Linked DNA regions of Homo sapiens: region 1 is linked to region 2. The links come from fine-mapping of genetic effects on gene expression. A gene starts in region 2. The other region holds a variant in brackets. All regions are shown on one strand. Distances are from middle to middle.

Region 1 (2,916 bases), 50 kb before region 2:
AGAAAAAGCATGTTGGTAAAATAAAATTGTTTTAAAAGTTATGAATCTATTGCATGGAAGTAACTATTCACCTAAGCACTCAAAAGGATCTGAAAAGTTCATGTAGGTAGGCAACTGCCTAGATTTATGAGGGGCACAAGGATGGGTAATCTTAGCCTGCTTTCTCCTAAACTCACCATTTGATCTACTAACTTGTCACCTAGAACAGTGACCTCTAAAACATACCACATCTTACCTCATCATCTGATTCACCAGGGAAGAATGGTGAAACTCTCTTAGGTAAAAGCATGCACCTACCTTCCCACTGGCCTGTCAGCACCAAGCTTCTGTTAATTACCACGTCGATTTCTGTAGCTCCATCTTCCACAGCCAATCTGATCTCTTCTAATCGTGTCTTCAAATGAGTCTGTCCAGCTGGAAATCCAGCGGCCACTAATAGAGTTAAGAAAGGAAATGAAGAAAGAGGGAAGGAGGGAAGAAAGAAAGTAAGCAAGGGGGGGAGGGGAAAACAAATTTCAATTGGTCAGTAGTAGTTCATCAAAGAATTCCAAACCCCCAAACATCAGCATTTAAAGACCAATGCACTGACACTTAAGAACATCACTTATGCATAAGTGTGAAGAAATTGAATGTTCTCTCATATTAGTGTTAGGACAAATATCATTTTCTGGAAGACCTGAAATTAAGATGCTGCAGAGATGCTCATGAAGGTGGATTAAGTAACCAGCAAAGATGTTTTATCTTCACAGTGATAGCCATAAAATAGTAGTGGTAGCCCTATCTTAATGAACACTAGTTATCTAGCACACTAGTTCTGGGTCCAAATCTTGATCAAGTTAGCTATCTTGATTTACTCATTTACCCTTGATTTATCTTGATTAATTCTCTCATGAACCTCTTTAGCTGTGGTAAACAAACTGTCCTATGTGTTCCTCCCACTGCCTATGTTAAAAACAACCAGCCTGGCAGATGAGCATAAAGAAAAGAGAATGCAGGAGGAAAACACACCTAATTAGTCCACCAAATTGAGGCAGGGGCAGGGTTGGGAAGAGCAGAGCCAAGTGTAAATAAGAGGAAAATGAAAACACAAAACACAACTACACTCTTGAAAAATAGTAACATCTTTTACATGCACATCATTAACTCTCCATCCCTGTTTCTAAAAAAACCTGTCATGTTACCTTGATATTAAATTCCTTGGGGCTGGGCACAGTGGCTCTTGCCTGTAATCCCAACATTTTGGGAGGTCAAGGCTAGCGGATCATCCGAGGTGAAGAGGTTGAGACTAGCCTGGTCAACATGGTGAAACCCCATCTCTACTAAAAGTATAAAAATTAGCCTGGTGTGGTGGTGCACACCTGTAGCCCTAGCTACTTGGGAGGCTGAGGCAGGAGAACTGCTTGAACTCAGGAGGCGGAGGCTGCAGTGAGCCGAGATCGCGCCACTGCACTCCAGCCTGGGTGATAGAGCGAGACTCTGTCTCAAAAAATAAAAATTAAAAAAATTCCTTAGGTCTGTTACCTTAGAGGAAAGCATGTTTCTCTGTTGTTTAAAGCAAAAACTGAACTGACTGAGGCTGA[T/C]GAAAAATTAAGGTCTATACAAGTGTAGCTGCCAAATACTTCAGGAATCCTCATAAATCAATTCTATATAAATACTGTGCACCATGTTTCTTTTAATATATTCCTAATAAGCTAATGACCTTTATAAACTCCTTTTAAATTTTTACTTATTTTATTTTTTTGTAGAGATCTTTGTTGCCCACACTGGTCTCAAACTTCTGGCTTTAATCAATCCTCTCGCCTGAGCCCCCCCAAAGTGTTGGGATCACAGATGTGAGCCACCATGCCTGGCCTAGACTCCCTTTTTAAAGCATCAGGATATTCCTCTAACATCTCTTAAAACTAGAATCTAATTTTATATCTGTCTATTCATCCATCCATATACACACAGATACACATTTACCAAACTAATGTTTTAAAGACTTTTCTGTCATACCAAGTCCTACCGTGTCTATCTGAAGTCAGTGACTTCTGAATGCACTCTCTCCTTTATCTTCTAGGTTTTGTGTGGCTTTTATCAGGTCCTGCATGTACTGTGACAAGTCTCCCCTAACTCCATTTCACTCCTTTTCTAATTTATCCAGTACCATCAGGTAACTTACTATGCCATGAAGCTGATCACGTCACGCCTCTAACCTTTCAGTGTCTTCCCTATCATCAGAATACAGGCCAAATGCCCCCACATGGCATGGATCCCCTCTGCAATTCTGCCCTGATCTCCCTCTCTAGCTTCAACTCCTGTATCTCCCCCTTTGCCCTGTCTTCAGAGCCCTGCCTTTGTAGTCAACAACAGCAAACCTTTTCCAGTTCCCTGAACATGCTTTGTGCCTTCACACGTGCTAGTGCCTCTGTCTAACATGTGGTTCCCTACCTTATTAACACTGTGAACTCCTCCTCATCCTTTAAGATCCAATGCAATTATCTCCACGACGATGCTTTCTCTTACTTTGGTGTCACCAACCTCTGCAGAATATATCATTCCCTGCTCAGAACCGCAACTACACATTTTGCACATATCGTTGTTTTTTTTTTTTTTTTTTTTTTTTTTTGAGACGGAGTCTTGGTCTATCACCCAAGCTGGAGTGCAGGGGCATGATCTCAGCTCACTGCAACCTCTGCCTCCCAGGTTCAAACGATTCTCCAGCCTCAGCCTCCCAGCAGCTGGGATTACAGGCACCTGCCACCATGCCTGGCTAATTTTTGTATTTTTAGTAGAGATGGGGTTTTGCCATGTTGGCCAGGCTGGTCTCGTACTCCTGACCTCAAGTGATCCACCTGCTTCGGCCTCCCAAAGTGCTGGGATTATAGTTGTGAGCCACCGTCCCCAGCCCGCATATCATTATTATTATATTTTACA
Region 2 (2,916 bases):
TCACTTTTAAGGAGGGCGAAAAGGACCTACCTGTATGTGTTACATATAATTTACAGCCAATTTTCTCAAAATTAGCCCCTAAAACCATAACTCCATATACTAATACTATCTATACTGAAGACTTACTAGGTGTCCACAATATACCAAACTACTTTACATGTATCCTATTTAATCTCCTAACGGCCTTATAAGGTAACTACCACTAAAATAACCATTTTACAGATGAAGAAACTTAAGCGCAAAGTTATTAATTTGTCCGAAGTCACACAGGTAAGAAGTTAAAGATCCTGGATACACAGATATCCAAGCTATAATACTTAAACGAGACGCTTAAACCTTCTCTTGATCATGGTTTTGCTGTTTGAATTATAAATTTTTCACATGTTAAGAAATCTGAAGAAAAATTCTCTTCTGCCTTGGGATCCTGTTGATCTGTGACCTTATCCCCAACCCTGTGCTCTCTGAAACATGTGCTGTGTCCACTCAGGGTTAAATGGATTAAGGGCGGTGCAAGATGTGCTTTGTTAAACAGATGCTTGAAGGCAGCATGCTCGTTAAGAGTCATCACCACTCCCTAATCTTAAGTACCCAGGGACACAAACACTGCGGAAGGCCGCAGGGTCCTCTGCCTAGGAAAACCAGAGACCTTTGTTCACTTGTTTATCAGCTGACCTTCCCTCCACTACTGTCCTATGACCCTGCCAAATCCCCCTCTGCGAGAAACACCCAAGAATGATCAATAAAAAAAAAAAAAAAAGAAATCTGAACTAAGGTTTCTTGCCAGTATTTGAACAATATAAAAAAAGATGAAAACTGGGAAATAATACAGGTACTTTAACAAATCTTTGTAACTCTAAAATCCCATGAATCTGCAGTGTTACATTTTGAGCACAGACGGCTGACAACTTTTCCACGAGCACGGCCACTTCAAGGTTACGGTTAAAATTATCTACGGAAATACTGCATTAAATTACACAAGTATTCTATTAAAAGGAGGAGAAAGAAGGTTTTTATCTGTTTTTACCTGCTTGGGGGTTGTTTGTTTTGGGTTTTGTTTTTTGGGTTGTTGGGTTTTCCAACCAGCGAGCTAGAGTGAACGAAAAGGCAGGAAGATAATAATCTAACCCTTTCCTACTCCTTCCGCATACAAGAGTAAAAGCTTAGGTGCAAAGACAAGCGGCGCGAACGTGCCGGGTTCGGCCTTTACTTGGGGTGAGGGCTGACCAGACGCCACTGCTTCCCGCCCCAGCGAAAACCCCTCGGGGACCCACAGCCAGGGCACTGGGCGGCAGCAGGCCCCGCGCTAGTCCCGGCGGCGCTGAACGCGAGGGAGAGGGGATGGGGAGCCCCGCGGGCCCCTTACCGAGCTCGGTGCCCCGATTGTGCGCGGACATGGCGCGGGCAGCTCCGGAGCTGCCGGCTGGTAGGCGCCCGCCTCTGCGCCGCGCCCGGCCCTTCCTCCTTCCCGCCAGCTGGAGCGCTCGCCCCGCCCCTGCCCGCTCCCGGGGCGGAGTCGCGGGCCCGGGCTACGAGGTCTGTACCCTAGGAATATTGCTCCGCAAGGAAATCTCGCTGCTCCCCTCCCCCGTCTTCTCCACGAGGTACCGAACCGGAGCGCTAAGTAGCTCCCGGAAATAATGCTACCAACACCCTTTAAAAAATACTGAAGTTGCCAATTGCACGTAATAAAAATATTCCTAGAAACTTTTAACTGTAAGATTATATAACAAGAAGGAAGAAGATCCAAGTGCAGAGCTCTGCAACTTAAGGTCTGAAATGTCAGCAGGGATCCCATATCCTTGTTAGGGAAACCAAGGTGCAATCAAGGGCCCCGGGGCACACTGACTTTTCTAATCTACACATCATGAAAAGAAGCAGCTATGTGGCCTGAAGAAGGCAAGGGCTTAGGAGTCAGAAGACCTGGTTTCTTAGCCAAGCTCGGGCAATAATTAAATGTGTGACCCTGGGCAAATTAACTGCTTTTCCGAGCTTCATTTTTCTCATCTGTAAAAGAAGACCTTGACAATTTCTTGGTTCTTCAAAATACTATGATTCTATAAAGGTAAAATGCTTCAGCCTGATTTCTCTGTGACCAAGAGGTTAAAATCGTCGAGTCACTCCACAATCTCAATATAGTTAACTTATCTGTACTCACGTTTAGAGGCACCTCTGCTATGAAAACAGTACAGTTAGTTATGATTTGTCTACCATGAGCCAGTTATTGTGCTAGGTGCTTTCATACATCATATATAGATGTATGATAGCATTTGAGTCTCTGAACAATCCTGCCAATAATGTATTTTATCTCCATTGCTGTAACTTTAGACATCAAAGTTCTGAATAGAAAGGCATCCTGGTATAGGGGAAATACAGTGAGCTCAAAATGAGCTGAACCCATTAATATACCAGCTCTTCCATTTAATAAATGTAACTTGGCAGTTCTGGAAATAATAGTCTGTCTACTTACCTGTAAAGTGGAGATGATCAAAATATGTTCACCTTGCAAAGCTGTTGAATGTATGCAAGGCACCTAGTACATAACATGGCATACAGTAGATACTTAAAAAATGGAAGCTGTTAATGTTATTGTCAAGTTCACACAGTAATTACTGAGCTGTTTTAAATAGGAATAGTAATATTTGTATACTCCTCTACATTGAGCTTTCAGCCTTGTCCACACACAGCCACTGTTGAATGTTTCGGATGTGTGTAGATCTTACTCATACATACTATAGCACTTTTCTTTTTTATATTAACCTTGAAAAAGAGAAAAGCAGGCCCTGAAAGCCTGGAGCTGGCCTGAAACTCACAACTGGACCATGGTTTTCCCTGGTTAAACGTATACAATTTCACAGCACAGCATCAGCCAAGGCCATTGTGACCACAATGAATCAACAAAAACATAATCATAATCAT

Evidence for each region. PIP is the estimated chance that this variant, and not a neighbour inherited with it, causes the effect. A credible set is the group of variants that fine-mapping cannot tell apart.
Region 1: its variant is the best candidate, but not a certain one, in a credible set for the expression of DERA in skeletal muscle (GTEx, PIP 0.60).

The regions. Positions count from the first base shown.
Region 1 is chr12:15,960,329-15,963,244 of GRCh38, reverse strand. DERA (deoxyribose-phosphate aldolase) reads right to left here. Exons shown (of 9, transcript NM_015954.4): 5 at 298-432. Among named protein-coding and RNA genes, the nearest start is that of DERA, 50 kb to the right of the region's middle. The variant T/C (reference allele first, on the strand shown) is at 1,581.
Region 2 is chr12:15,909,862-15,912,777 of GRCh38, reverse strand. It overlaps DERA (deoxyribose-phosphate aldolase), which reads right to left and starts at 1,446. Exons shown (of 9, transcript NM_015954.4): 1 at 1,364-1,446. The coding sequence starts at 1,394. RefSeq lists enhancers at 268-1,011, 1,012-1,756 and silencers at 1,159-1,508, 1,529-1,588.